Regions from separate parts of the Homo sapiens genome. Here region 2 is linked to region 1. The links come from fine-mapping of genetic effects on gene expression. A gene starts in region 1. The other region holds a variant in brackets. All regions are shown on one strand. Distances are between the middles of the regions.

Evidence for each region. PIP is the estimated chance that this variant, and not a neighbour inherited with it, causes the effect.
Region 2: its variant is fine-mapped to the expression of FAM9C in tibial nerve (GTEx, PIP 0.98).

The regions. Positions count from the first base shown.
Region 1 is chrX:13,039,052-13,054,245 of GRCh38, forward strand. It overlaps FAM9C (family with sequence similarity 9 member C), which reads right to left and starts at 5,569. Exons shown (of 8, transcript NM_174901.6): 1 at 5,489-5,569; 2 at 4,678-4,806; 3 at 4,077-4,197; 4 at 3,867-3,898; 5 at 1,707-1,821; 6 at 757-865. The coding sequence starts at 4,738. It overlaps LOC105373133 (a long non-coding RNA gene), which reads left to right and starts at 5,682. Exons shown (of 4, transcript NR_171577.1): 1 at 5,682-5,798; 2 at 9,051-9,154.
Region 2 is chrX:12,411,048-12,426,241 of GRCh38, forward strand. The region is part of intron 1 of FRMPD4 (FERM and PDZ domain containing 4); the gene reads left to right. Among named protein-coding and RNA genes, the nearest start is that of FRMPD4-AS1, 43 kb to the left of the region's middle. The variant G/C (reference allele first, on the strand shown) is at 9,215.

The DNA of each region.
Region 1 (15,194 bases):
GCAACCATGGGTCAGATCGCATCCTGAAAAATTTAAATAAACCTGTTACACAGGAACCCTTTAATCCTCCAAACAACTCTGAAATAGGTACCCTCACCATGTCTCCTTTCGTATATAAAGTAACTTTAGCACAGAGATAAATAATATGCCCATGGTTCCTGAACTAGCAATGGTCAAACTGGAATTGGATCCCAAGCAGTGGGGCTCCAGAGTCGCAGCCCTTGACCACTGCACTCATCTGTTTCTCCATCTTCCCAACATACAGCCACTACCTTCCTGCCACTGTAGGTCACTCACTTCAGTACTACAGCTCAGGAGTCTGTAGGGACCTGACGCCTATTGAATGGAGCACTTTTCACTGCCCAATGCCCCACCCCCATGTGCTCAGGTAACTCAGCCCCAGCTGAAATTCCACAGCCAGTCATCATAACCCCATCCCTGCCTCTATGCCCTGTCCAACTCTCCCTCTATCAACATGCTCGGCTACACCCCAACCCAGGAAATTCCAACCCTACAGCTGCTCTTGCACAAATATGCCAACTGAGTTCACTTTAACTTCTTCATCGCTATGATGCTGACTTCAGTTGGACCCCTAATGCTGCATGGCAATTATATTCCCCTAGTCCATGAGTCCACTAATGGGCGACCCTCTCTGGGCTCATGCTCTCTTCCTTCTTTGCTGGATTTCTGCATGAACTATTACTACCTGAGACATTGATACAATAGGTTAATCATAAAGCTAAGCCTGATACCAACAATTTGTTCTTCCTTTTCTCCATCTCCTTCCTCATCTTTCTGCTCATCTGTGATGAACTCTTCAAGGACATTCGGCAACTTCAGAGAAATTCTATAATCACGTTTCTGCCTGTAACACATAATAAGTAACAAGGTCATACGTCATAGAGGGATGAAAAATTAATCCTATTCAAACCAAAACTGACTTGACATAGTTTGTACTATAAAGTAGCAAGGGAGTAATAGCAGCTGAAATCTTCTTTTTGGGAAAAGGTGAAATGAGTTACTGTCATTCTGAAAGGATCCCTTCCTAACTGACTACTAGAGCAGCTATCTTACATTCTTTACCTGCTGAAGACAAAGGAGGGTTTACTGCACTATAAATTTCCCAGAAACAATCTTTTTCTCCAAGAGCAGTTTACTTTTCATTTCTTCTTACTAAATAACATATGCGTTCTCATAAGGAGGTGCAAGAATATCATAGCCATTCATCCCGTAAGATTTCCCGAAAGAAATACTTCACTTAACTATTTCTCCACTTTGGCACGACAATGATCTAAAAGGAATAGTGAAAACAATTTAACTAAAATAAATAACTTATTTACAACACAAGGTTATCCCTTTCTACATAATTGAATATTGTTAAGAATCTACAGACTAAACGTTGAAGACATTTATCTTATATTCACCTACCGTATTTCTAGAAATGGATAAACATTAATTTTACAGGAAGACTTTTTATCTGGAAGGCAAAAAGAGGTCATCTTCATTGGCTTCTAGGTAATATCTCTCAATTCTGTTAAATTGAGGTTATAAAACTAAAGAAACTTACCTGTTTAGGGAACAATCAAGTAAAATATGTTGTTCCCTAGAGACACCAATATGTACAGGATAGTTCTGGAAATTATTTGCACCAATGAATACAAAGAAATGATATAAATATCATTATTCAAAAAAGCCAACAATCATACCTTTTTAGTTGTGTTGTTCTCAAAACATTTTTAATTCTGTTCTTTATTTCGCTGCAAGCTTTTGCAATCTTTTCAATCCTTTTTCTCTTTGCAGCAAGATGCTCTTTAATGTCAGCTAGATAGTAAATGAATATGCATTAAATGTTCATGTTGAAAAGTAGTTTCTTTGCATATATTAAAATCAATATGGGACTTGATGGTTCAGCAATATCAGAAGGACATTTAAAATGTAAAATGCAAAGATCATTTCAAAAAGCAAGATTTACTTACTTTATGTAAAACCTTTCAGGTATTAGTATTCCAATTTCAGTTGGTATAACAGCAAATCACTTAATTGACAGATAATGAAAAAAAGCAAATAATTAAAAGTTTCTATTTTTTAAGTGTGCAGAAAGGGTTACAAACACAGACTTTAATTTCTTTTTTTTTTTTTTTGAGACAGAGTCTCGCTCTGTCACCCAGGCTGGAGTGCTGTGGCACGATCTTGGCTCACTGCAGCCTCCGCCTCCCGGGTTCACGCCATTCTCCTGCCTTAGCCTCCCGAGTAGCTGGGACTACAGGCGCCCGCCACCACGCCCGGCTAATTTTTATATTTTTAGTGGAGACGGGGTTTCACCGTGTTAGCCAGGATGGTCTTGATCTCCTGACCTCGTGATCCACCCACCTCGGCCTCCCAAAGTGCTGGGATTACAGGTGTGAGCAACCGTGCCCAGCCACAGACTTTAATTTCTACATTTATAAAATGTCCTACAATTCAAAGGACATGTTTCCGTGAAATACTGTCACAACTCATTATGTAAAGCACAAAAAAGTATCTGATTTAATAAGACCATCAAAAGGGTAGAAATAACTTAATACACAATAAAGAAAGTATTTTTAATCAATAGTTGATGCTATTAACTATATTTTAATAAAAGAAGCAATGTCCATGGGTGTAAACATTTAGGTTTAAATAGATAAATACATTCAAAACACATTTGAAATATTTTCTGAGAGCTTTTTATATGACATTTTTATCCACAGTGCAGTGTTTCAGAAAACTGTAATACTGCAAGGAATGCTTTCCTAAACATGGTTTCACATGAGAGATCTACCATCAATTGCTGAGAATAGTTTTGAGCAATCATAAAAGAGCTGCACCATAATACAAATTTTTTTACATACAGTATCCATCTATAATGCTCATTGTATTAGACAAAACCGGCACTTTGTCACCACCAAGCAGAGCAAAGCTTTCCAAATATACTGCTTATATGAATTATCGCTATAGAAGAGCTGAAAACTAAAGTAAGCTTTTTAAAAATAAGAGTATTGTCTTCATAATCTCTACAGAAATTTTCTCAAACTTTTTTGAAAATATGGTCCCATAACAGTGCAACTAATATTTCACATGGCAATATAAAGTTTATGAGTTTTTGGATCCAATTGTATGCTTCTCACTGGGTAGAAAAGTTGTCTTTCCTTTTCTACTACACAGCTTGTTACTGGAATAATAATAGAAAATCATCATTTTAGAGAATTCAATTTTCTCTGGTACTTTAAAGAAAACAAAATTAGAAAGTTGTGACAATAGCTAAATTAGGAAGATGAAAAACTCATATTAAAAACTGAGTACATACGGACAGGAAGAGGTGAACAACACACACCTGGGCCTACTTGAGGTTGGAGGGTAGGAGGAAGGTGAGGATGGAAAACCACCCATCAGGTACGATGCTTATAATCTGGGTGACAAAATAATCTGTATACCAAACCCCTGTGACACGCAATTTATCTATATAACGAACCTGCACATGTACCCCCAAACATAAAGTAAAAGCTAAAAAAAAACCTGATATATGACTTAATGTGTGTACACTGAAAGGAACGAATAGAGCTGTTTCTCCTCCAATGTCCTCTAATATCCCCCAAACAATTAAATTTCCACGTGTATGAAAGAAAAGCCACCCCTCTTGCTTCACCATTATTAGAAGCATTCTCACATTCCACATCAACAATTAAAAAAGTAAGTAAGAAAAATTATTAAACAGATTACATTAAATGCTATATATGAGAAGAAGGCATTTAAGACAGTCTTGTCATCCACTAATTCATATAACCTACTGTAAGGGTTGTATGGTTGAAAACAATTTTCATAAACCACAAATAGCTCGTAAAACATACCTGCAATATCTTCTAGCTCCTTGGTATCAACCCTGTAACAAAAAGTTGCAACACAATTTTAACATAATGCTACACAAAAGGCCTTGTTTGTTGGGAAGAAATGTCTTGTGTGAAATGTTCTGCATAGAACATAACAGTGATGACATGATCCAAAGCTGACTTTTCCTAAAAGACCTTATCTGACAGGCAAAAGGGACTTAAACACTTTACCCCGTGTGTTCATCTGTTTCAGCAAAAGATCCTCTTTCCCCATGCTCATCAGTTACATCTCCCTCCTTTGTCTCTGTAACAGGTTTTCTTTCCTCATGCTCATGACTTACTGGATCCTTTCCTGCATTAAAATAAAAAAGACAAACCTTTTTTAGAGGAAGACGCTGTTGTGGACATTTTTCATAGAGAAACGTACTATTTGTAGACTTTTTTGGCTCTCCGCCAATTAAAGCTTTACCGCAGAGCTATACATGGAATCGCCGGCTCCTAACCATTTTACGGAGGCATTTTTGGAAGCCCTTCGGGTTCAAGTCCCAGTAAACAACGTTCACAGGTCAGATCCCTTGGATGTCAGGACCGCATCCATGGAGAAGAGCTGCTCTGAGAGCATCTGTAACCCTGCTATGAGGGGGAGCCTCCCACGGGAAGCCTAAGGCCCTTGAGCCTGCTTTGAAAACCTGGGGCATCTCAGCACATGCACGGTGAGCTCCAAAGCCACGAAGGGGCCGGGGGCCTCGGGCTGCCCATGTGCGCCCCGCCCAGAAAGCAGACAGACTGTTGGGCGTGCACCTTCTTCTAGGTCCCCTTGGGCTGTGTTTACCTGCAAGCTCCATTTCCTGGGCGGCCATAACTTGAACCTCCAACTGGTCCTTGGCAGCCATCCTGCTGCCCTTCCTGCCCACGGGCTCCGTGGCTGACTGGCCTGGGAAGCTAGAGGCGACCTCTGAACCTGGTGAGTGCAAAGACACACTAAGGACACTAAGGAAACGAGGCGTGTTAAATGAAAATCATCAGGATCGCAGGTTCAAGGGCGCCCCGGGTCTCCCGTGGGAGCAGGAGGGGACGCGGAGAAGATGCCATCATCCCCTCCTGTCCTGGCCCGTCCAGCGCTTCCCCGGGGCTGGCTGCAGAGCTCGCAGAATTCCGCGGCCTCTGCGGGATTCTTGCAGTGCCCTTGGGACAGAGCCTGGCCCTGCCCCTGGGTTCCCCAGCGACCCAGTGGAGTCGGGAGGGCCGCGGGGTGACACAGGATCTCCCCAGCCATCTCCATGGGAATGAGCCGGTACGCACCTGTTTCTGACAGGGGCAGGGACTGCCCATTCGCCAGCCTGGACGCCCAGGGGACCCCTGGTGACCCCAAGTATCCCGTCCTGATGGGCAGCCAGACAAGACGGACCCACGTTGACCCCCCGACCCCCCCCCAAACGCTGCACACATGCACAGGCCTCCGGGACCCTCCTGGGTCCTGGGGACCACTCAGGCAGCTCCAACTCCCTGCCCTGACCCAGGCCCCAGGCGACAATGCCTGGGCCATTTCCTCACAGATCAGCCTGGCTGCCCCGCCCTTCACACCCTCTTCCCCAAAGGGCCTCTGGCCCGCCTTCCCCGCATCCCCACCGAGGGCGTCTCACCTGAGGGAGCCCTGATGTTGCTCCCTCAGAGGACCTGCAGAGGCTGGCACCGCGAAGCTCCTCCGAGGGCCTGGGTCCTCTGTTCTCACGAGAGCAGCAGCCGCCCCGGCTGCCCGCGCTCCTCGCTGATTGGTCGGCCCAGTGCGCATGCAGGTGGCGGGCGGCATGGGGCCACGCCCCCTGCAGGCACACCCTCCCCCTCACGGACTGTCCATGGCTGCTGTGGACTCATTGGGTGGCTCTCTGAGGCCTCTGTCCCCACGATATTCCAGCTCCTCATCCTGGTGAAGGAAGCAAGGACTCGGGAGTGGTGAGTGCCAGGGGACCCTGCCCTAAGGAATGGAGGCCAAGTGAACGGGGCCTAGGACCTTGCCCCCAGGCTCGTTCCAGCCACTCCTGCCCCTTTGGGTGGAATGGCCATCACCCTGCGGGTGGAGCCCAGGCTCCCTCCCATGTCCTGTGTGCTTCCAACACGCCCAGCTGCATCCTTTTTATCAATGGATTGTGCTTTTATGTTTTATCTAAGAAAATTGTTGACTCCCAGCAGGGGCAGGTAGTTTTCTCCTATCCTACTCCATTCCCTCACACTGGGCATTGCATGATTCTGCAGTGGATATACAAAGTTAAAGACTTTATGTCTAGATTTCTCATGATGTGGTCATTTCTTTTCTTTCATTTTTCTTTTTTCTTTTTTTTTTTTTTTTTGACAGGGTCTTGCTCTGTCACCCAGGCTGGGCTGCAATGGTGTAATCACTACTCACTGTAGCCTCAACTGCCCGCGCTCAAGGGATCCTCCCACCACAGCCTCCCAAGTAGCTGGGACTACAGGCATGTCCCACCATGCCCAGCTAATTTTATTTTATTTATTTATTTATTTTTAGAGACAGAGTCTTACTCTGTCCCCAGGCTGGAGTGCAGTGGCACGATCTCGGCTTCCTGCAACCTCTGCCTCCCTGGTTCAAGCAATTCTCCTGCCTCAGCCTCCCAAGTAGCTGGGACTATAGGCGCACGCCGCCACGCCTGGCTGATTTTTTTTTTTTTTTTTTTGTATTTTAGTAGAGACAGGGTTTCACCGTGTTGCCCAGGCTGGTCTCGAACTCCTGAGCTCAGTCAGTCTGCCCGCCTCAGCCTCCCAAAGTGCTAGGATTACAGGCATGAACCACCGCTCCTGGCCAATTTTGTTTATTTTTTGCAGAGATGAGGTCTCACTATGTTGCCCAGGCTGGTCTGCAACTCCTGGGCTCAAGCGATCCGCCCGCCTCAGCCTCCTAAAGTGCTGGGGTTACAGGCTTGAGCCATCGTGCCCAGCCCGATTATTTCCACAGCTGGGTTGGAAGCCATCTTTCCCTGACAAGGCAGCTCACCTTTATATCTAAGAGTTCTCTATAACCTAAAGAGAATCCCTAATTACTGACACTAAATACCACCAGCTGTCCCCATTTCCCCACAATCTACTTGGTACCCAAATTAGCCAATGAGACATCTTGGGGAATTTTAAGCCATGATTGCTTCAGGTTTCTCTCTCTTTCGAGCTTAAGATGTGTAACATTAAGAAAGAAGACAAATCTTGCAGAGGGCTTTGTGCAACCAGTCTTACAGCTTTCTATCCCATCTGGATCAATGTAATTTTCATATGCTTCATCAAAGATTTCAGCTGAAAGTACTATACCAGGTTCTGTCTATAATTGGAAACACATACACACATACACCAACTACTGGTATTCAGCTAAGAATTCAATGCTGGCTCATTTTTCTTTAAAAGAATGTCAAATCAAGGAACAATTCTCCATCACAAAGTGGAATTTGATGTCAGGTGAAGACAAATGGGGATTACAGAGCTACTTCTTTGGCATAACAGCCTAGAAACAAACTGAAAAGGATTCTGCAATTTTAAATAGGCACAAAGACATTCTTTTCAGAACACCAAGTGTCCAAGTTACAAAACCCTGAAGAAATTCTTTTAAACTTTGGATGGAGCAATTTATCTCTTTTTCCCAACTGGAGTATTTGTGAGATGTCTCCCAGAAAGAAACAACTCAATACACAAATCATTAAGCCTTTGTAAAGGGAGGAAGTCTATTTGAAGCAACTCTGGGTTGCGGAAACAGGTTTTGTGAACTAACCAAAGCCTTTAGGGCAAACATGGTCACTTCAATTTTTTTTTTTTCCCACTAGAGGTTATCTACAAAGACCACAGGAAATGTTTAAGCAAATTTAAAGGAGATTTCTCAAGAGTTATTAGAATAAGTACTTTAATTTAGAGAATTGGTTTCTAATAACTGGAGGTGTAACCCCCTCCTACCCCCAACACCCTACTCCACCCTATGTGAATTGACTGACAAGTAAGGATAATGCTTCATAACAAATGTAGAAATAACACCAATTTTCAAAGCAGCCCTCACTCTTCTATTGCTGTCATTAAGAACTAACTGAAAGAAATGCACTGCTTGGATTCATAGACAGACAGAGGGACAAACAGATGGCTAGATATGTGATAAGCAACAACAGTATGGCCAGATGTCAATGATAGAATCTAGGTGATGGGAACATGAATGTTTTCCATGAAATTCTTTCAACTTTTCTGTGTATTTGAAATTTCTAATAATAAAATGTTGGAAAACAACATGTATGCTGTGCATACATGTAGAGACATAGGCTCAGACCCTCTCATCAAATGGCAACAACAATTGTTCATTTTGAAAACATCTAGAAATCTAAGATGTGATCACTGGGTTAAAGACTGTATACATCCATACTCTGTAGCCTGAATTAGTGATTTACGCTCTAATAGCCAATCAAATTGCTCATTTATCAGACAGGGCTGGTAGCACAGGAGATGGAAGTTTCTCTGCTGATAATCCTCCAGACGTTTGAGGGCTTCATGTTCATTCACATTTCAGCCTTTTCTCCAATTCTTAGACTCTTAGCAAAAGTTTATACTCGAATGAAGCAGCAAATTCTAGGCTCCAGCTGTTTAAGAATGAATGAAAACATTCATGTCTTTCAGAAAGGCTTATCTGATGTACTCTGCACAAATACCCTCACCTATGATCTTCTCTGTGCAAACTCTATCAGGGCCCTTCTCAGTGGGCTTTTCAAGACTCTCTCCAATTAGATTATAATTCCTTCAAGGGCAGGTCTTTGTCAACTTTGCTTCTCCAGCACTCAGCGCCATGGCTGGCACATGGTGGGCCGTCAGCAAATGCTGTGTTTGCTATACGTGAATTAATGCTGTGCATACATGTAGAGACATAGGCTCAGACCCTCTCATCAAATGGCAAAGTCTACCACCCAGTCCTGAGAATTACATCTCAGCTTAGAGCAGAGGGGCCCCACCCTGGCGTCTCCTGGAATCACTCAGGAAATTTCAAAACACACTGCTGCCTCCATCCTACCCACTAAGTTTCTGATTAACTGTGTTGGAGTTTGGCCTGGGCCTCAGGACGGTGAAATCTCCCCAGATGATAGAAAAGTGCAGGCAGCACTGAGAATTCCAGGGTTTGGACTTTACAAGCCACCAGGTAATTTCATTTTCACTCACCTTCTTTCCTTTGATTCTCAGGACAAGCTACCAGGTCTCCAGGACTGAAGGTTATCATCTAAGTTGGTGTTCTCAACTGGAGGCGATTTACCCCCCACCCAGGAGACAGTTGGCAATGTCTGGAGGTATTTTTGGTTTTTATAGCTGGGGATGGGGGTGCTACTGGAATCTTGTGGGTAGAAGCCAGGGATGCTGCTAAACATCCTACAATGCACAGGACAGCCCCACCACAAAGAATTATCTGGCTCCCAATGCCAACAGTGTTGAGATTGACACACCGTGGTCTATGGTAACTGTTTGATTAGCTAGGGCTTTCTTAGCTAGAGTAATCTCCTTTTTGCACTCTGTGCCCATGCCCTGAGTAAGACAGACAACTGCACAACAATTTATCCCAGAGTACATCTGAGTCAACTGTTGATGTTACATGTTGGATTGGCTCCAGCAAATGAAGAGCTGACATTCAATGAGTGTTCCCTTTGTGCCAGGCACATTATATACATGGCCATATGTTCCTCCCAGCAATCTGGGAGAGGAGAGAGATTCTAAATTTGAAAACTAAACTCATTATACAAGGTCATGCATTTAATTAAGAGTTTGAACCTTTAACAACAAGCCCAAGACAAGGAGTTGCCTCAGATCCTTAATAGGTTGCCTTAATATAAAATTAATAATGCCCTATGTTTCTCAAAACCCCTTGTTTGAGAAACTCAAGCCTAACACATTGTTCATCTTTCCTGCTCTTGCAGAATGGAATTGATGTGCCATACAAGCCTAATCATTAACAAGACATACCAGTACCCTTTCCTTGTAATCCCACCCTCCTCCACCCCACTAAGGATCCACAAAATACCTTTTAAGGTGAAGTTCCAATCACTTTCACATTATTGTAACCATGGCTTATGGCTTATCTTTGTTGTCATGGATAATTGAGGCAACTGTGTGGGAATGGCAACTTATGAATGATCTAACAATAGGCCTATTAATATAGCAGTAAATGTCACAGTTATAATAAAAGGTACCATACTTACACAGAGTATTGCCAGACCTAGCACAATTCCTGGCATAAGGTTTGTGCTTAATAAATGCTTGCTGGATGAACCAATGAAGTAATCAAATGAGTCGGAATAAGATGCAACATATTCAAGAGATTTATAGAATGGAAGATCTATAGTGTTTTTATTTGAGATCGATATGTTCTGTAGTGGTAACCGAAAGAGTAATAGCTGACTTTCACTTTATTATTAAAGCACAAACAGGGCATATCAATATTTATTTTCTCATCCTTATTTTGGTATCTAATAGTGCCACCAAATATTATATTATATGGATAACTATAATTCCGATACTTACATCAACATTTTTAATCTTGTTGGTAGACATTATATTTTTCTTTAAAAGAGAGATAAACAGCTTAACATGGGAAATATTTGACATTATTAGATTTCTTAAAAAGAATTTTTGTGCTTTTATCAGCATCTGACCAATATCTACAGGACTGACTTCTCCTTTAGGCACAGAGTTGAGGGACCACAAAATTACTTCAATTTCTCTTAAAAATAACAAGGGAAAATATTAATATAATTCAGTATGGATTATATTATCTTTATACTAACAGAGTCACAAAATATAATTTTTTAATGTATTATTTTATATATATAATTATTATTTTTTTAGTGGAGGAAAGGCTTCACGAAGGAAAATGCATCTATAGCTTATTAATGTCATGCAGTGGCCCTGGATGTCACCTCTCTACATTCCACTGCCCTACTCTTTTCAAATAGCTTTTTTATTAATTAGTTTCCTTTTTTTTTTTTTTTTTTTTTTTTTGAGGCAGAATGTCATTCTGTCGCCCAGGCTGTAATGCAGTGGTGCGATCTTAGCTCACTGCAACCTCTGCCTCCCAGGTTGAAGCAATTCTCATGCCTCACCCTCCCGAGTAGTTGGGATTACAGGCATGTGCCACCGCATCCGGCTAATTTTTGTATTTTTATTAGAAACAGGGTTTCACCATGTTGGCCAGGCTGGTCTCAAACTCCTGACCTCAAGTGATCTCCCTGCCTCAGCCTCCCAAATTGTTGGGATTACAGGCATGAGCCACCACGCCTGACTATTAATTAGCTTCCGATTTCAATTTTTTAAGAAAACTTTGTTTCATCATCTAAGTGACTATCTGGGTCCTTCAGTGGAGGGAGACTGGTAACTGATGACATTTTACAACCAATTGATGACAAGGGACTGACTCAAGGTGTGGGGGAGGGGTGAGGGAATTGGTGACGTGGGAACATAGCAGTTTGCAGGTCAAAAATGAGGGGTTAAAGATGCCTCCAAGACTCTCAGCTCAGGGACATGGGCAGATGAAGGTGCAGTTAGGCTAGCAATGTCAAGTAAATACCATGAGAGAGGAGATGGTCAATGGCTCTCACGGAGATTGGGACTGGAAAGGGCTAAAGCTGAACCTGGCAGAGATAAAGGAAAAGGAGCCAGCACTACAGACTGAAGAGACAGGAGGACAAGCTGGAGAGTTGAGTCCAGAGACAGAAGAGGACAGAGATTTTAGAGTTGTGGAGAGTTCAGTAAATTCAAAGACCTCAGAGGGATGAAGAAGGTTGAGGCTTGGATGGCCACCATAAGATTTGACCATCACGAGGGTACCCAAGGTCTTTGCCTGGTAGTTTCTGAAGTGTGATGTAGGGAGAAACCAGATTGCAGTGGATAAAAGATATGAAGGCGGGGGCTGGGCGCAGTGGCTCATCCCTGTAATCCCAGCACTTTGGGAGGCCAAGGCGGGCAGATCACCTGAGATTGGGAGTTCCAGACCAGCCTGACTAACACGGAGAAACCCCGTCTCTACTAAAAATACAAAATTAGCCAGGCATGGTGGGACGTGCCTGTAATCCCAGCTACTCAGGAGGCTGGGGCAAGAGAATCGCTTGAACCCAGGAGGTGGAGGTTGCAGTGAGCCAAGATTGTGCCATTGCACTCCGGTCTGGGCAACAAGAACAAAACTCCGTCTCAAAAACAAAACAAAACAAAAAAGATGGAAAGGCAGAGAGGGAGAGAGAGGGTTCCTCCCTCCAGGGCCAGGACATTTTAGAATATAAGTTGAGGAAAAGGAATTGGTGGTCACAGAGAGAGAAAGAACAAGCTGGTGTTTTTTCTTCTCTTCTGTCTCTCAAAATTATGCTTTCACAGAGAGTATGAAGTGTAATCATCTAGACCAGGGGTCAACAAACTACAACCCCTGGGCCAAATCTACATAGCTGCCTATGCTTGTAAATAAAGTTTTATTGAAACACAGCTATGCCTATTTTTTCTCTCTTTTGTCTATGGCTGCTTTTACACTACAGTAGCAGAGTTGAGTAGTTGTAACAGAAACTGCCTGCCCAGCAAAGTAAAAAATATTTACTATCAGGCCCTTTCGAGAAAGTTTGTCAACCACTGTTCTAGGTCAACTCCCTTGATATAAAGATGGAGAAACAGACATTCCATTACATTTCTATGTTCATTTGCTTTCTTGTTCTGACAAAGCAGAAGTGTCTACCGGAATTATTAATTACCTAGTGTATGCGTCATCACCCACTGAATTTTAAGAGCTATGTATACAACTTTCATGCAAAGTGTCACCACTTTCTATTCTCATCAAGGTGAATTTTCCTCCCCATTCTAGCTGCAAAGCAAAACTAAAGCTAAATGCACTTCCATCCTTTATACAGGCCTCATTTCAGCAATGTTTGTTGGGCACATTAATGAGCAGAAATGACTTAGCTTTATAACTGCTTCTGAAAATCTTGAGATTTAAGTGAGAAGGAAATACTTTTGTTTCTGCCTCCATCCTATTTTAGTGTAAATCAAAGTTAACAGCTCATGGTCTGGTTGGCAGTTCACAAGAAAGGGCGAGGTTGCCAGAAAATCAAAATCACACAATTTCCTGTTTTTGAAGATGTATTTCAACAAGATCACTGAGAGCTTCAAAGACAAAAATGGCTGTCTGCCAGGGCCAGACCAGCTCCAAGCGCCTTTGTTTGCTTTATTGTTTGATGCTGAGGGGTCAAAGCACTCTTTCTATTGTGTTGTCTCTGCTCCCCACCCCTGTTATTTTTTTTGTTGTTGTTATTCTATTAAGATTCCTGCTGAAAATTAAATTAAGCTTCCTAAGTTCTTCTTTGTTGATCCTAGCAACTAATTATAGAGAAACCAGAAAAGATTTGCAATACTTGGGCATTTTTTAAGATTGTAATTGGCTACCCACAAAGTTGGTGGAACAATAGTTTTTGGGGAAAAAAAGAGATTCGTACTGATTTTTCAATGAATATTTAAAAATATCTTGGCATCAAAATTCCTCCCATTAACCTCATTTGAACATAAAAAGGTCCCTTTTACTGGTGCTATAATTGACTTTCCCCACCCTATTCTTCCCTGTTCATCCTGACACATCCCCCACACTCCGTTTTAAATTGTGGCATAGGACCCATGTGGCCCCTGTAATCTTCCTTCAAGGCCAAAGCCGACTCCCAGAATACTCAGCATGTCAGTGCCACCTGCTCACAACTTTGGCACTGGCATGGTTGAAAATTCTTCCAAGTAATGTCCAAGAGGGATAGCTTTTTTCTGGGATGAGCTTGCAAAGCCAACTCAGAGGGTCACAGTAGATTGTGATTACATCTTTCAGAGCAGAATGTCGGGGGTGGGGCGGGGGCGGGTGCATCTATGGAACGGTTAGAAAACTCGCTGACTAGAGGGGCTCCCAAGATCACTTTGTGTGAATTCGACTGCTATAGAAACTATGAAATTGGTTCACTGATCTGAACTTTGGGTCAAGACCCATGCAGCCATTCTAGACATGAATGGTTTTGGCCTTCAGTCACAACAATTGAAAATTAGACCCTTGAAGAAGGCAGGAGTCTCTGAAGGGGCTCCTCAGAATGTGAGGGCTTTAGGCCTGGAGTACCTTAAAGGTTTTCTTTAAAAAACATTTGGATATGGTGACCACATTGTCTGATTTTTAAATTCAAGAGGCATCCATAGAGAATTTGAAGTGCTACTTGCCTTCGAGCCAAGATGCGTTATTTACGGTAATGGCATTTCTATAATCTGTCACTCCTGAATCTCCTGTAAGAGAAGCATTTTCTTAGGCCTGATCATTCCTGTCTAGGTTGACTATCAAGAGCTGTACACCTCTGAGAACAGATCTGGGGTGTGAGGTCACACAGGTGGCCTCAAGGGGAAGACAGAGCTCTCTAGTTGTTGTAACTTAAGGTAAAAGGTGTGTAACCCCAGTACTACAATGAGAGGGCCAGCTCACTCTGAAACCTGGTGATATCACCTGAAAGTCCTTGAGCTGAAATGGAGCACCTGCAGTCATTATGGTGATCACACCCCTCATGTCTTGCTAAATATCCCTCAACAGTTTAGTGATATAGGTAGTCATTAACAGGTCCCTAATGAGATTTTATTTTATTGTATTGTATTTCATTTTTGAGACAGAATCTCACTCTGTGGCCCAGGCTGGAGTGTAGTGGTGCTGTTTTGGCTTACTGCAACCTCCGCCTCCCGAGTTCAAGCGATTCTCATGCCTCAATCTTCCGAGTAGCTGGGACGACAGGTGCACGCCAGTACACCCGGCTAATTTTTTGTATTTTTAGTACAGATGGGGTTCGCCGTGTTGGCCAGGCTGTTCTTGAACTCCTGGTCTCAAGGGATCCACCCACTTCAGCCTACCAAAGTGCTGAGATTACAGGCATGAGCCACCCACTGTGCCCGGCCCCTAATGATATTTTAGTTAAGAAGATTTTCTGTATTTATGTAAGGCCATGCCAGAAATGTTTTCTTTAAAGATGCTTTATTCATAGAAGTTTGCTGTCCTCTTTACGGTTTAAAATAATTGATTACTAGTTAGACACTATCAGTGTTTAATATTGAACCATCTCTGAATCACCAGTTTATTCTGTTCAGATTTCAAGTGGGTCAGGATTCACATACACATTTGAAGTTTGAATCCATATTGGTTCCTCAACACAAAAGGAACTGAGACACAGAGATAATCTTTGGCCATTAGTATTCACCATGGAAATTACCAAGATAATCTTAAAACGTCATAAAAATCAAGAAGTTATAGTTTAGTCCCATAAAATCAGAATCATAACGTATTTCAAATCAATATCACTC
Region 2 (15,194 bases), 630 kb before region 1:
ACATAGCAGTTGTTCATACAACTGTTCAAACAACTGTGCCATCAAAAACATTGGTGATGCAGCATTCTTAGGAGCTCTAGGAGTTCCCACTATTGTCTCTGAGATTTTCTTCCAAACTCCCAACACCCACTCTTCAAGTTTTGACTCTGGGACTTTTCTTGCTTAGCCTGAGATAAGCCACGCTTTTGTAAGTATCTTAGTAGCACATGGCTACTATTTTCCTGTCTTAGGTCCCGAAAGCATTTGTCCCTTTGCTAGCAGATATGAAAATGTGTTCACTTCTTCAGCAATGAATATTTGCTTTGCTGATATGCAATTCACACCCCACTGCTCTGTTTCCACGCTTTTCTGTGTACCAGTAACTTTCCATTTCAATATTGAATCATGATGTAATCTTTTGGAAGACAATTTAAATGGGATTTAAGCTAAGCATTTGTAGTATCAGCACTAGACGTAATTCAGTTGAGGTGAGGACCATATAAATAGCAATGAGTACATTGTTCACACTTGTGCAGGACAAACTGTTGCTTTGTGCAGAGCAATTTAAAACACCATTGATTATAAGACATCCTGTTGTTAAAGATGCTAAAGCGTGGGAAATGTGCATCTTGTAAAAGACGAATGCAGAGGTAGGTACTCAGGATGCAATATGGTGGCTCCATAGTCCATCCGAGACCTGAGCTATTTCTGCCCTCTGTTATTGCATCCTTAGCACATGGCTTCCATCGTCAGTGTCACTGCATGGTCCAAGATGACCTAGTAAGCTCCTGACATCATATCTAGGCAGAAATGAAGGAAGTCAAAAAGGGCAAAAAGGCCAAGGGTCTACAACTCACTGGATACCACTGACTTGAAGGGAGGCTGCCTGGTAACTACAGTCTTTTACTTGGGCAAGTTTGTCCCCTAGGAAAAAACCTGGAAGAAGGAGAGAATGTCTGCTGCGTAATCAACTAGGAGTCTCTTCATCATATCCTTTTGAAAGCCTCAATTCCTGTGCAGCCTGATTCACAGGCCACTTCAGCCTAATCATGTGATGATTCAATGCATAATGGTTTGTGACAAATTTTAGCATTTTGCTCTTACCATTATGTGTGATTCAAAAGTAAGCACAAATCTATAATAATTGGTATTTAATGTGACTAATTCACTTTTCCCTAGTGAGTCTACAGATTCCTTGAGCAGATCTGTCTTCTAAACCTTAGTTACTTCTCCCACACAACCACCTACCCCATTGCCCATTGTCTGAATTATCTTACACAAAACAAATGCTCCATACATGGATTTGACGTCATCTTGCTTCTGTGGCCTCAATAAGTGATTGCTGCTTCCAGATGATCAGTATCTGAGGTTCCCCCTTGGTAGCCAATGAGGAATTTCATAAAAGCAGCAGCTTGAGAAGAGGACATTTTTAGAGTTTGCTTATCTCCTTTGGGAAACTCTTAATCCATATTCTGGCAAGCATCAGGATACTTTTAGGAGTGATGTCTAGTACTTCTTAACTGACTTCCTAAGATAATCACTTCTGGATAAAACACCTCTATAGCATGCAGATTAAATAAACTCAGCCACAGCCTGTTGTGAGATTCTTAGGGCCATGCCTGATAATGGCAGCAAAGGTAGAGGCATGGATTTTTCTGAGAGTAAAGACTCAGTGGTTCCTGGGAGAGGAATTTGTGTTTGTGGTTGGTGGTGGTTTGCACTTCATCTCATAGGCACATAGTGTACAAAAGCAAATAACTGCTGATTTCTCAGTCTGAGCCTTTCTGGTTGAATCTGAATCATCTTGAGTATGAGCATCAAATGTTATAGAACAGCTTTTGTATCGGGAACATCAACAAGGGTCCTGGTAGCAGGACATAGACATAAATATCTAATAGCATTGGCCAATGCCTCCATGGGTAGTAAAAATAATAATACTGATAGTCATAGTAAAAAAAAAAAACACACATTTATGGCACTGTATGTGCCATGCACTTTATGGACATTAATTTGTGCAGCCCTGGCCACATTTCTAGGGCTACACCACATCATTGTATGCTAGATGACTTCCAGCAGCCAGTCTCTGCATCTCGGAGGGATTTTTCTGAAACTGTTTAAAGCCGGTATGCTTTTGTCTGGGAGCACTTTAAAAATGATTGACATGAGTCGGTATATAGATATCCCAGTTCCTTTGCTCCTCAGATGGGATATTTCAGACATGTGAGTTTTATACTATTCCCAGAATTTCCTGGCAGGATTAAGCTCCAGTCACCCAGTATGGTAGCTGGCTGGATAATCCATTCTTTATTGACTGTTTGTTTTCTCTTCCCAGCATAGTTTCCTTACCCTTGCACAGGAATCTTTGTATTGGGGTCTCCTTCTAGGGAAATCCAAACTAAGACAAATATTAACATCAACCCCGTGAGTTAGATATGATCATTACATTTATTTTTGCAGACAAGGAAATTGAAACATGCAAAGGCAAAGGAAGAGGCAGAAGTGTTCAAACCCACGTTGTGAGTCTGGTTTGAGAGCCTGCATTCTAGCTACACCAAGTAAATGCTACAGGAGCTAAGTGAAGGAGTGCACTCTGATGGAGAACAGCTGGCCCAGTGGTCTATAGATTCAGTTACTTTTCTAAAACAAGAATGTCAGGTCCAATGTACAAAGAGAACGTGTTATACTGACTATTGCATTCATGACTAGGTTCCTGGAACATTGTGGGGCAGCCTTTAAATGTGCAAATTCTTGTGTTTGAGGACCTGGTGTGCCTACCAATTAAACCACTTGGAAGGTTGTTTTAAAATCTGGTGCCAATTTGGGGATGTTCAGCCCTTCCAGCCAACAACCCTCCAGAATTGTCAGCAATCTAAAAGGCAATATTTCAGTCTTCTATTTCTTTCAAATTCATTTAGTGTCTAGGTGATAATTTTTTTCAATTAAAGCCCATAGGGCTATGGATTTACTGTTATGAGATGGTGGCCTTCCCTGTTAAACCAGTGTTGGTCTGTGTGACTATAAATAGGGATTTCCACAGTTTTATATATCTTGGCTAAATGAAAGGAATTTAAATGTTATTGCTACAAAGCATTCTTTCAGAAGCACTTAGTGATCATTTAATATGCATTGCTTCTACCTTTCACATTAATATCCTCATGCAGTAAATCAGATAGGTCCTCACTAATCCTATCCACACAACACACTATGGTTCATTAACAGATTCCTATCAGTGTAACTTTGATCTGCCCATTTTCAATTTTTGAGTTGTCTACTTTCTGGCAGATTACAGTTCAAAAGGTCTATCATTGATTCAACATGAAATTTCATTATATTTGAATCAAAGACTCATTGGAGTGACTTAAAAAGCTTTTTATGAAGTGAAAAAGTTGTTTCTTAGCCTCAGTTAATTTATTTTGTTATGTTATTTGATCCCAAAGTTCACACAAAACTAATTAAGTCTCAATTCAACAATGATATCATCCTGAAAATGCTTTGTGTCAGTATGCAGATGCTTGAGACGTATTTTTATATTCTTCTATTACGGACAGGACTAAGGAATTCTGGAACCCAAGGTTCTGCTTATCTTAGGTTTCGGAGAGCCATTAGTATATACAGGCCTTGAAAGCCTTCATCATGGGTTGGGATTTTAGAGAAGAGGGAGCCCAAAAATAATGAAAGAGCAACTTCAGTAGAAGAGAGAGGACCTGACATTTATTGAGAACTCATTATGTTCTGAACCTTATGGTGGTGCTTTACATATCACTACATCTTTCCCCCAACTACAGAGAGAGATTAAGTCATTTTCCCAAGTTGGTTACAAGAGAGACTTTTTCAAACACAATTCTGTCTGACTCCATAGTTCTACTTTTACACGTGATCACTACACTGCATTGAAAGCTTCAATACTAAGTGGTAGAGTTTTTCTTTTGTGGAAGGATGGGAGCTGATCATCTTTTTGGTGGTCCTTTAGATAACACCATGAAGGAAATTGTCTAGAGTTCAGGCTGCTGCTGACATTTTATCTAGGTGGTGAGCACTACCAAGATAAGGAGGGTGTTGAGGGAATTGCATTTGGGTCCTGGTGTTCCATGTAAGCCATTCTAGATGACATATGTAACTCTTGGCTTACCCAAGATTAATTTAACATTATTGATTCTTAGTTGATTTGTCTCCCTTTGGAATCATCGTGGAGGCACATAAATCCTGAGACTAAGAGGGTCTTCGTTGTAAGTACAGCCCTACTGAGCATCTCTGGAGGTGGCCAAAGTTGCATCAGAAAAGCAGTATTGCTGGGCAATATATGTTGTTTTCAAAAAGATAGTCCTGAGCCCTGCAACCCTTACCTCCTCCATCCATCCTCTCCTCCCCAGTTGGAAAAAAAATCTCATTTCTTTAGTTCTTAGTGTGAGGAAAGCAATCTGATTGATATATTTGAAAAAATATGATTAAAGGATTTTGCACCAGAATTCATCTTCCAACACCCCCTTAGGTTTTTCTATCTCCTTTACTGTTTTAGTTTTGACAACAATAATAGGGGGGATGAGATTGATTCACAAGGCTCTCACCAATACTAAAATTGTATGACTAACACCCAATTGCTATTTAAATATGATTATTAATATTATTAAAGACTTGGGATTATTTCCTGTGTTGTGTTTGATTATAATGCCCAGCATTATACATGATATATCCAGAGTCTTCCTGGTTTATTGCTCATGTAGCAAAATGCTGCCTCCATTGATCAGGATTTGGAAGAATGTTGGTGATTATCTCCTGAGAATAGTGTATTCTTTCACTTTGAAATATGTTTCTAACACTGCTGTTTACGGTGATTCTGATTATTTCAAGGCCATGGTATATTTGTATTATTTGCGATTATCAGCTGATGCTGAACTTTCAGAAAATTTGCTAATTATCAAGAATTCTTCATGACAATATGAGACCTTTGGGCAGCACATAAGATAATTTTAAAGTGAAAGAACTAGTCCGTCTCCTGCAAAATGATGCAATGCCAAAAGCAGGCTGTTAAGGAAATGCTAACATTTAGTGAGCATCTATTTTGCTCTGAATGTTTCCTTTCCTTCCCTCCCTCCCTCTTTCCTTCCTTCTCTTTCTCTATTTTATGTTTCTTTTTCTCCTCCCTTTCTACCTCTTCCGCCCTTCCTCCTCCTTTCTTCCCTTTCTCCTTCCTTCTTTTTTCTTTCTTTCTTTTTTTGGATATAAATAGTGATTGAGCAAGGACCACAAAGCAGCTTTCTCTCCTCCTTAAATTCCTTAAAGGAAAGTTTGTTCTTAGAGGGGCATGGCAGATTTCCTAATGAGCATGCCCTCACCTGGGCTTCCTGGCCATCAGTTTCTACTTCCACAGCAGTTGTGGGAATCCATTGTTACTTTGTTAATTAACAACTTGTATGGTGTAGCCTTTGAAGGCAGGGAGCTACTTCTTAAACACAGTTCTATTACTCTCTAATTTGTGGCATTAATAATCCGTTCTTTTTCGATTTATGTAAGATCTTTTCCTCTTAATAGTTGTGGCATTTTCTCTGAGATAAATTTTCATAAGACTCAATTCCAAGTTGTGATTTTCAAAAACAGGAGTCGTGTGGTCGAAGGATATTTCAACTTGTGTCTTATGACTGTCCTTCATTTAGCCTTTTGCCTCTTTAGAGATGGGACATATGATGAGAGCTGATTTGTTTCCCTTGTGGGCAAGGAAAAACATTTTTGAAGGTATCTAGCATGTTAAAAATCAAAAAATGCTTCCTCTGTGTCTTTGTCTGGTTGTACCTTTCCTTTAGCCACTTTACAAAGGAAGTCACACCATACATTTTGTCTGTCTTTCTTTAAAATCCTTTATTTTGGGAACACCAGAAAAAAAATTTTAGAAGGTATTCTCTCATCTTTGCTTAATCTCTTTCCTTAGTCATCCAGAGACTATTCCTACTTAATTGAAAAAATTCAATTTAATTTATAGATAAGGATAATACCTTTGAGATTTAAAGGCTCGGCTCAGACCTCTTCCGGGAGGGCGTGTCTGACTCTTATGTGTTCTATAGCATGAGTGCATACTCTAATATTTCTTCAGTCGATTCATTTATCTCTTTATACATCTGCCATCCCATCAGCCTATAAGCTACTTTTTGCATTGCCATCAGATACCACCATACTGGACACAGTTACACTAGTATCACTTCAAAATGTTGCTAGATATTTCTATTTAATATATTAACCAAGGAAGCACACATATTTCTATATAATAAATTTAGTTTTGGCCCGGTGCGGTAGCTCACGCCTGTAATCCCAGCACTTTGGGAGGCTGAGGGGAGTGGATCACCTGCGGTCAGGAGTTCTAGACCAGCCTGGCCAACATGGTGAAACCCCATCTCTACTAAAAGTACAAAAATTAGCCGGGTATGGTGGCAGGCACCTGTAATCCCAGCTACTTGGGGGGCCAAGGCAGGAGAATCACTTGAACCCAGGAGGTGGAGGTTGCAGTGAGCCAAGATTGCGCCATCATACTCCAACCTGGGGGACAAGAGCAAGACTTCATCTCAAAAAAAAAAAAAAAAAATTAGTTTAAAAATTTGATAACTTTATTATCAGTTTTTTTTATTATCTTGATGATCTATTATCAGTGTAATTCATTTCCTTTGTAATTCTATGTGCTTTTATTCATTTTATTCATTTAAAAACATTGTTCTGGCCAGGCACGGTGGCTCAAGCCTGTAATCCCAGCACTTTGGGAGGCCGAGGCGGGCGGATCACGAGGTCAGGAGATCGAGACCATCCTGGCTAACACGGTGAAACCCCGTCTCTACTTAGCCGGGCGTGGTGGTGGGCGCCTGTAGTCCCAGCTACTCAGGAGGCTGAGGCAGGAGAATGGCATGAACCCAGGAGGCAGAGCTTGCAGTGAGCCAAGTTCGTGCCACTGCACTCCAGCCTGGGCGACAGAGCAAGACTCTGTCTCAAAAAAAAAAAAAAAAAAACAAACAACAACAACAACAAAAACATTGTTCTGAGAAGGGGTCTACAGGCTTCACCAGACTCATGGGGCTCGTGACACCGAAAAGGTTCAGAACCCTTGCTGGAATAACGTGTTCTAAAATTCAGAAACACTTCAAAAAAGTTTGAGAGGATGATTTTACAGCCCCTCAGTATGGCTGTATGGCTGTCCACTTACATTGACTATAATTCCCTTGCCATCACCATAGAGACAGCTTGTGGACTGGCTAGTGCATGAAAGAGCAGAAATTGGGTGACACTGAGCTATATTCTAGGCCCAGCCGATGACTCAGGGATTTGAGCATCCATCAGTGTTTCTTTCTTTTTTTTTTTTTTTTTTCTTTTTTTGAGATAGAGTCTCGCTCTGTTGCCCAGGCTGGAGTGCAGTGGTGCAATCTTGGCTCACTGCAACCTCCACCTCCTGGGTTCAAGCAGTTCTCCTGCCTCAGCCTCCTGAGTAGCTGGGATTACAGGCGCGTGCCACCAATGCCTGGCTAATTTTTGTATTTTTAGTAGAGATGGGGTTTCACCATGTTGGTCAGGCTGGTCTCGAACTCCCGACCTCGTGATCCGTCCGCCTCAGCCTCCCAAAGTACTGGGATTACAGTCGTGAGTCACCGCACCTGGCCACATCCATCAGTATTTCTAAGTGTAAATAAAATTTGTTTCTATGTGACAAGGTTGAGATAAGCATAGAAGAAAACTGCTGCTGAACCCAGAACCCAGACATAATCATGTAACTGAACTTTCTTGCTGCATCCTATGATAATTCCCTTGTTGCTAGCTTATAAATAGCGGAAAACAGCCACCATTTCTTCAGCTTTTCTCCAGAAGGGCCAAAGATGTTACATTTATTTTTGTTTCTTCTTCTTAAATAATTCTTCATGAATTTCAGTTTCCCAGAAGGCCTCACAATTTTCTAACACCCCAGATACCTTTCTTGGTATTTCATGTCATGGGTTATGTTTATCCAAGGAGACTTTATTCATTGGATTTCTTAATAAGAAAGAATGACTTGATTATTTATGCTCTAATATTCCCTATGCTTTTAAAATTGCTGACCCCTCCCTCCTCCTGTATCATGATACTATCTTGCAGGGAAAGTAGAATCTACTGGATGAAAAGTCCCTCAACCTCCTGCCCCCAAACCTATTGATTTACTCATATCCACATACTACATCACCTCCTCCCCCTTGTGAGGGTGGAAGATAAGTTGTTTTTCCTGTCTCGGACAAAGCATCCTGTCTCCTATAGTACTGCAACAGATTGAATCCAGAAGCCGATAGAAAAAACCCACTGTCATCTGTCGAGCAATGTATTAAAGAGATCTATCTGCAAAATTGTAAAAAGATGCTGTTCTTCTCACCAAATGTTTTTGTTTTGGAAAATATGGTTATGTTTTATAAAAAGATATGACTTATGAAATAGAATTGTTGTTTTTAAATACATAAAAAATATTTCAATAATTTATCAGTTTTACTTTCTAGTATATTAGATATCGGTAGATGTAAGCAACATGCACAAAAACTCTTCGGGGGTCCTCAAAAATGTTTCAGAGTGGAAAGGAGTCCTGAGGGTGAAATGGTTGAGAAGTGCTGGTCTAAAACTCCCCAACCCAGTCAAATCTGGCTTCTGCCCATATCAGTTCACTGAACCTATTTGCTCCAAGGACACCAAATTCAAGGGCAAGTCCTTACTAGACTTCTGGGAATCATTCACACTGTTCTTGACCGTTCTTCTGGAAATGCTTTTCCTCTGACTTACAGGAGTCCAGAGAGGAACACCATGTACACTACTGGTGTTCTTCCTACCTCCCTGGCTCCTCCTCCTTTATCTCCTTCATGGGCTTTTCTTCCTCTGCCTAACCTTAAAGGTTAACGACCTGTGGGGCCCTCACCTCCTCCCACACTCCATGCTTCTTTGTTTTCCGTTACCGTCTTTAGGCTGGTGACAGCTGTGTTCAGCCCAGATCTTTCTGCCAATCTTCATACCTAAATACTGAGCAGCTTGCTGGGACACCTCTACCTGCCTATTCCACCAGCACCTATAATTTAACACGCCCTGAACTTATCATGTCACCATCACGCCTGCTCCTTCATCTCTATTCTCATGGCCCACACTCTGTCTAGTTGCCCATACCAGAAGTTTGGAAACCATTCTTGACTCTTTCCTTTGTCTTAAACCCTCACTGTCTTTCACAATATCCAAGCAATCTCCAAGCTCTGTGTCATCA[G/C]TGTCCTGAATCCTCAAAACAATCTGCTGTTCTCTAACTTCTAACACTGTCCCACCCGGGCCTCCATTGTCTCTACTAATGGCAGTAGTCTCCTAACTGGCTCTTTTCTAGCCTGTTTTCCACTGTGCCACCAGGGTCATCCTTCCAAGGCACAGAGCTCATCAATTCACTATTTCTTCAAGGCCCTGAAACACTTGTCCCCTCCACCTCTCACCTCACTTGCTGCATCTCTCATCACCTGCCCTCCCTCGGCATTCTGTGCTGGCTCCAAGGGCTTCCATGCTGCCATGGGCTCTCCCCTTCAGCCCCTCACACATGCTGATCCTTCATCCTTCATCCTGGGCCACCATCCCTGCCCCATCCCCATTTACACCTTCTTACCCTGAACACAGGCAGTGCTGACTAACTCAACACCGGTCGTTGATATTCAAGTTTAGATTTCTGACACACATCTAGCCTTCTGTAACACCCTATGTGTGCTCTGTGATGGCGTTTGTCAATCCACACATGTAACCGCATGTTTGATGTGACCTTCAGAAGGGCAGCAGCCTTGTCTCTCTTACATGTCATAGAATCCTCACAGCATCCTTTTCCAGCTCCATCACTTAACCACAATCTCTCCGTACCTATTTGTCGAATGAGGAAATTCGTATTTCTTTTCAATTTATCTTTCACTTTAAAGGTGAGCAGATTTACTGATTTTCCTTTGTCAAACAATCACAGGTGGCTTGAGCACAGAAAGGCAGTGATTTCAGTGCTTACAAAAATATAGCATTTATAGGTGTTCGAAGACATGGATATAATTTCACCTACTGCCTGCATGAAAGACTATCTGCGTCCTGATTGGCAATGGGAGTTGGCAACACATTGACCAGGTTAAGTCTTCTATCTATATATGAGGAGGGTGGGGTGTGAGGAATTGACATCTGATCAAAAGTTATTGTCCTAAGAAGTATGTCACCAAAAGTAATTCCATTTTTTTATGTCAAATGTGACCTTTACTTATAAAAACCCTAATGACAAAATAATCCTTTTTAGAAAACTGTTTTGTCACATCTGTGAGACAATGTAACTACAGAAGTTACCACAACACATATGTTCTAATCAAATAATATTGGTAGGTTAGGCTTCCATGCTCACGTCTCAAAAACTAAAATATTTGCAATGGAGGTAAAAGGCTTTTTCTATCTTTTTCATAAAAAGGCTTAATTTAAGGCCTGATGTGGAGGTTTAAGCCTGTAATCCCAGCACTTTGGGAGGTCAAGGCAGGAGGATCGCTTGAGTCCAGGAGTTTGAGACCAGACTGGACAACAAAGGAAGACCCCGTCTCTACACAAAGTATAAAAAATTAGCTGAGCATGGTGGTGTGTGCCTGTGGTCCCAGCTACCCCAGGAGGCTGAGGTGGGAGGATTGCTTGAGCCTCTGGGAGTTCCAAGCTGCAGTGAGCTATGACTGGGCCACTATACTTCAGCCTGGGTGACAGACAGAGACCCTATCTCAAAGAAAAAAAAAAAAAAAAAAAAGCTGGGGGGGCAGGGGCTGAATTTCTAGTTGATCACATAAGGAGACCAGTGAGATGTAAACCTAGGCAGTGTCCCAAAGCTGTTCCGGTTCTTGCCTTGGATATCTTCTTGCTGTCCATTCTTACTCCCTTTATTATGTTCTTCCCTCTTGCCCTTCTCTCACCAGACCTTCATTTCCACAAACACTTAGGAAGTAAAAAAGTCTAACATGTTTGAATCCTTGAAAACAGGGTGTAAAACATTTTGGTATGTAAAACATTTTTGGTATGTAAAACATTTCCTTTCCGGTATTATCATTTAATGTGTTTAATCATGAATTATAAGTGAGTATGGCTTTGGGGCGTGCTTCTTTTGAAAAGAAAAGGGCACATGATCACCACCTCCTGTGTCTCTTATCTGGTACATTTCCCTTGAAGGACTCAGCTCATTATCTGGCAAAGACGACCATGGTCTACAAGTCAGTTGGGTTCAACAAATGCTTATTAGCCATCTTCTAGAAACAGATATCGTGTAGGACGCTAGAGACAGGCTGTAGGCTTTGATATTTGGGGTTTGAAACCTGAATAGGGAGCGTCTTCCTCTTATTACATTCACTTTATTCAATCCTATTCATCTGAAAAATGGGGAACATAGGTATTATTTCAAATAGCTGTTCAAACAATCCTAGTTTATTCATCTGAAAAATTGGGGAAATTTTCAGATGAATAAACTAGGATCGTTTGAAAGGCTGTTTGAAGAATTCAATGAGATAATGCAAATAAGGTACCCAGCTCGGTGCCTGGTACCCAGGAGAAACTGGATAAGTAATGGCTTTCAGAATGATTACAGAGGATGAGGAAAGCTCTCCAGGATTCCACAGTGAGCTAGAAAGCGGTCTTCATTTTTGTAAGAAGTGAAACATATAGGAGAAACAAATGTGAAAATACATTTTTATAAAAGTGGGAAATAGTTAGTCAATTCCACTCTGAAAGTAACCCTCTTGCTTTTTGGTTTAATCTGTTATAGATGAAGGGGATTAACTGCCAAGAGACTTGAACAACACACAGGTTTTTTTTGGTTCTTCATGCTTGCACCTGTTAAAAGGCAGAAGAGGTCCAAAAATGGGAAAGATGTGACTTTTTTGTGGAGGCTCATGTTTACTAGAGGGAGAGAAGGGCAGTAGACCGCATATGTCATGTTTGTTCAAACTGAGCTGAGAATTTGAGGGGAAAGGGTTTTCTTGACAGCTGGGTATTTCATATCCTGCCTGTGGAAACTCAGTAGGTTTCCAAGAGCAAAGTCTAGAGGCTATAACCTTGTGCTCCTGATGTCCTTGTGTGAAAGGATTATTTTCTGGCTTTGGAAGAGCAAAACACCTCTTAAAAATTCCGGCTCCTGAAGTGTTGTTGCAGTGAGCCGAACCAAGATCGCGCCACTACACGCCAGCCTGGGTGAGAGAGTGAGACGCCGTCTAAAATAAATAAATAAATAAATAAAAAATAAAAAACAAAAATTTCCCACTCCCGAAATCTGTTGGTACATGATTTCATTCTGAATAAGGTCATGGGGTCCAGTTGGCAGTAATCAAACATTGTTCAAAACTTGACCCTAAATCGTAGTTCCTCCCAAAGGTCTTGGAAAAATAGGAGATTAGGTTTTAAAGGGAAGGAAAACAAATGAGTGCTTCTCCTTAATTATGCTTTTGGCTGCCACTGTGGGGATTATGAGCTTTAAGCTTCTAAGCTTCCACCTTTTTGATATATTTCCTGTTACTGTATTATTGTTGCCCAAGTGAGGGTGGGGGTGCAGAAAGGTTTGCAAGGGAAAAATAACCTCATCAATGTAACTGAAATTCCTTTCTCTGCAATTCAGTGGCTGACTTTATTGTTATTGTACTTTTGAAAGATTTGTACAGTTGTCTTTCAATTGCATAACATTGTTTTTCATTTATGGAGCTAATTGCCTGCTAGTTACTGATGCTCTTTAACCTTATGCATTGAACTTTTACTCATTTTGAAATTAGATAAACTTCATGCAATGATGTTAGCATGTGGGGACTGCTGACAAAGCCCAATAAAGCTTTCTGTGCCCAATAATCTCAAATCACACACTACTGGATGGCTTAGGCTTGTCAGCAGATACTAACAAATACCACCATGTTGTCTTATACTGTTAAGTATAAAACAAGAAAAGAAAAAAGGAACAAAAAAAACAGAAAAGAACAAGAAGCTTTCAAAATAAAACATATCATGCCCTTTTGAGTTTAAGGGGCCATCTCGGGTTTTTAATTACTTGTTACTAGTAGCATGGCATTTTGTACATTTGCACAAAAGGACCGAAACTTGTCATTGTGAAGAAATGATGGGCAGTATCTATCTTGGGTATGGTTACCGGTCATAGAGTAGTTCTACTTTGAGCTTGCCATACGACCCTTGTCATTTCTTTTCAGATTGATTTTTCCTGCCCCATGTTAACTATCCAGCTAAAGACACCCTTCCTTTGAAGAACATCTGCAATGAAGGCTTTACTTAGTCACTGTAATTCTAGTTCTATTGATTTCATTTTCTGTTGTCACTTTTTGTATATAATATGCTATTCCTTGAATAGTAGGACTTCATTTTAAGACTTTTTTCATATTTCTCAAGAAGCTCTAGAAAGAACTTTTTCAAAAAATATTTCTCTTGGCACAAAAGAGTCTATAAAATATGATCTTAAATGGTAAAACTGAAATCTCTAGAGCAGTGCTTATCAAACTTTAATGAGCATAATTGTGACCTGGGGATCTTGTTAAAATACAGACTCTGATCAGATAGATCGAGGGTGGGACCCGGGCTTCTGCTTTCTGTTGGTCAAGGGACCACATTCTGATTAGCGAGGTTCAAGGCCTATCTGAAGTTCAGACTTCAACTTAGACTTACTGCCTATGCAACCACTGACCGTGTATCTCCCAAATGCTCCGGTCTCTCCATTTGGGAAATAATTATGCCATTTACCACATCATGAAAATATATGACAGCTTTCAACATTTTTTAATAATCTGAAAGTTTTCTGAGCATCCCTGTTCACCAGTGGCACATGAATTACAAATAAAGATTATAATTTCAGAATCTTGTGTACTGGGGCAAAGGCAATGCTACTTCTATAATGCGTTTGCTTTGTCAAAGACGAGCCTTACTCTAAATCCCTCAGTAATTCAGTTTTTTTTCCCCCAAGGGATATTTTCTGTAGGTTGAATATGAAAAACCCTTCTTTAAAAAATATTCCTAAACAGCTTTAATTATTTGTACCGAATTAGTCACTTTTCCTGACATGATTCAGGAAGACAAAATAAGTAAGTAGAGTGTTGCCTTCTTCACAAGACAGACATACCTACTGAGCTTATACTCGTGCTTAATTTTTTTTCTGTGCCTTTATTTTGTTAGGCCACATTTCTCAAAGAAGTGCCACCTTCCTCCTGTTTAGTCTTTTTGCTTTGTGTTCCATCATGTTCTTCTATCTGCTTGTCAGAACAATTTTGAAAGTTATCAGAAATTGCCAGCCAACCAGAGTTGTATTTCTTGTTCCCTTCTCTTCATTGTCAGTGGAAACAAAACAAAAATTATGTGTAAAAGGGTGCTGTCTCTTGTTTTTCCTAGAGCTCTGGGCCTACTAAACCTTGTTCCCTGTCACTATTGAGGGAATCTGCAAGCATTACATTATAGATACAAAGTAAACTTGTTTTATAGAGATTAACATTGGAATCTAAGAGAATTCCCTGATAAGATAACAGCTGGTATATTTCTTATGTCTCATGCATTGGTTCTCAACCGGGGGTATTTTGAGACACTTGGCAATGTCTGGAGACATTTTGGTTGTCACAGCTGAGGGTGGGTAGGGGCTACTGACATCCTGTGGGTTGAGGCCAGAGATGTTGCTAAACATCCTACAATGCATGCGGCAACTCCCCGCAAGAAAGAATGATCCAGTCCTAAATTTCTAGAGTGAGAAGGTCTTGAGAAACCTTGATGTGCTGTTACTCAATACAGTCTTGATTGCTTAGTGTGGTTGTTTTACTCTGTCTTTACTATTCTTAAATTCTACTGGACTTTATTTTGTTTTGATGCATGAGGGTGTTAGCCACGTAATTCCCATTAGAGTGATGAGAATTGTGTATGTAAATACTCTTCGGCAATGCAGTTGGACTCTCATGAGGATTTGATGATATCTTTTGTATAGGTAATTTTGTATGCTTTCAACAGCAGGTGATTTTCCATATATACTAAACCATTAAAAATTCTAGAAAGTTATTTTTCAAATCATGAATGTCTTATGACTGTTACTTGAGCAAATTTATTTTAAAATACATTTTGACAATAACTATCTCTTGAGGAAGACTGGGATTCCCAGACTAGAGGGATTGATCCCTCTTTCTGGAAGAAATATGGAGTAGTTTTCAGTCAGAGTATTTTAATGTGGCTTCAGGAGAGACACATTATAG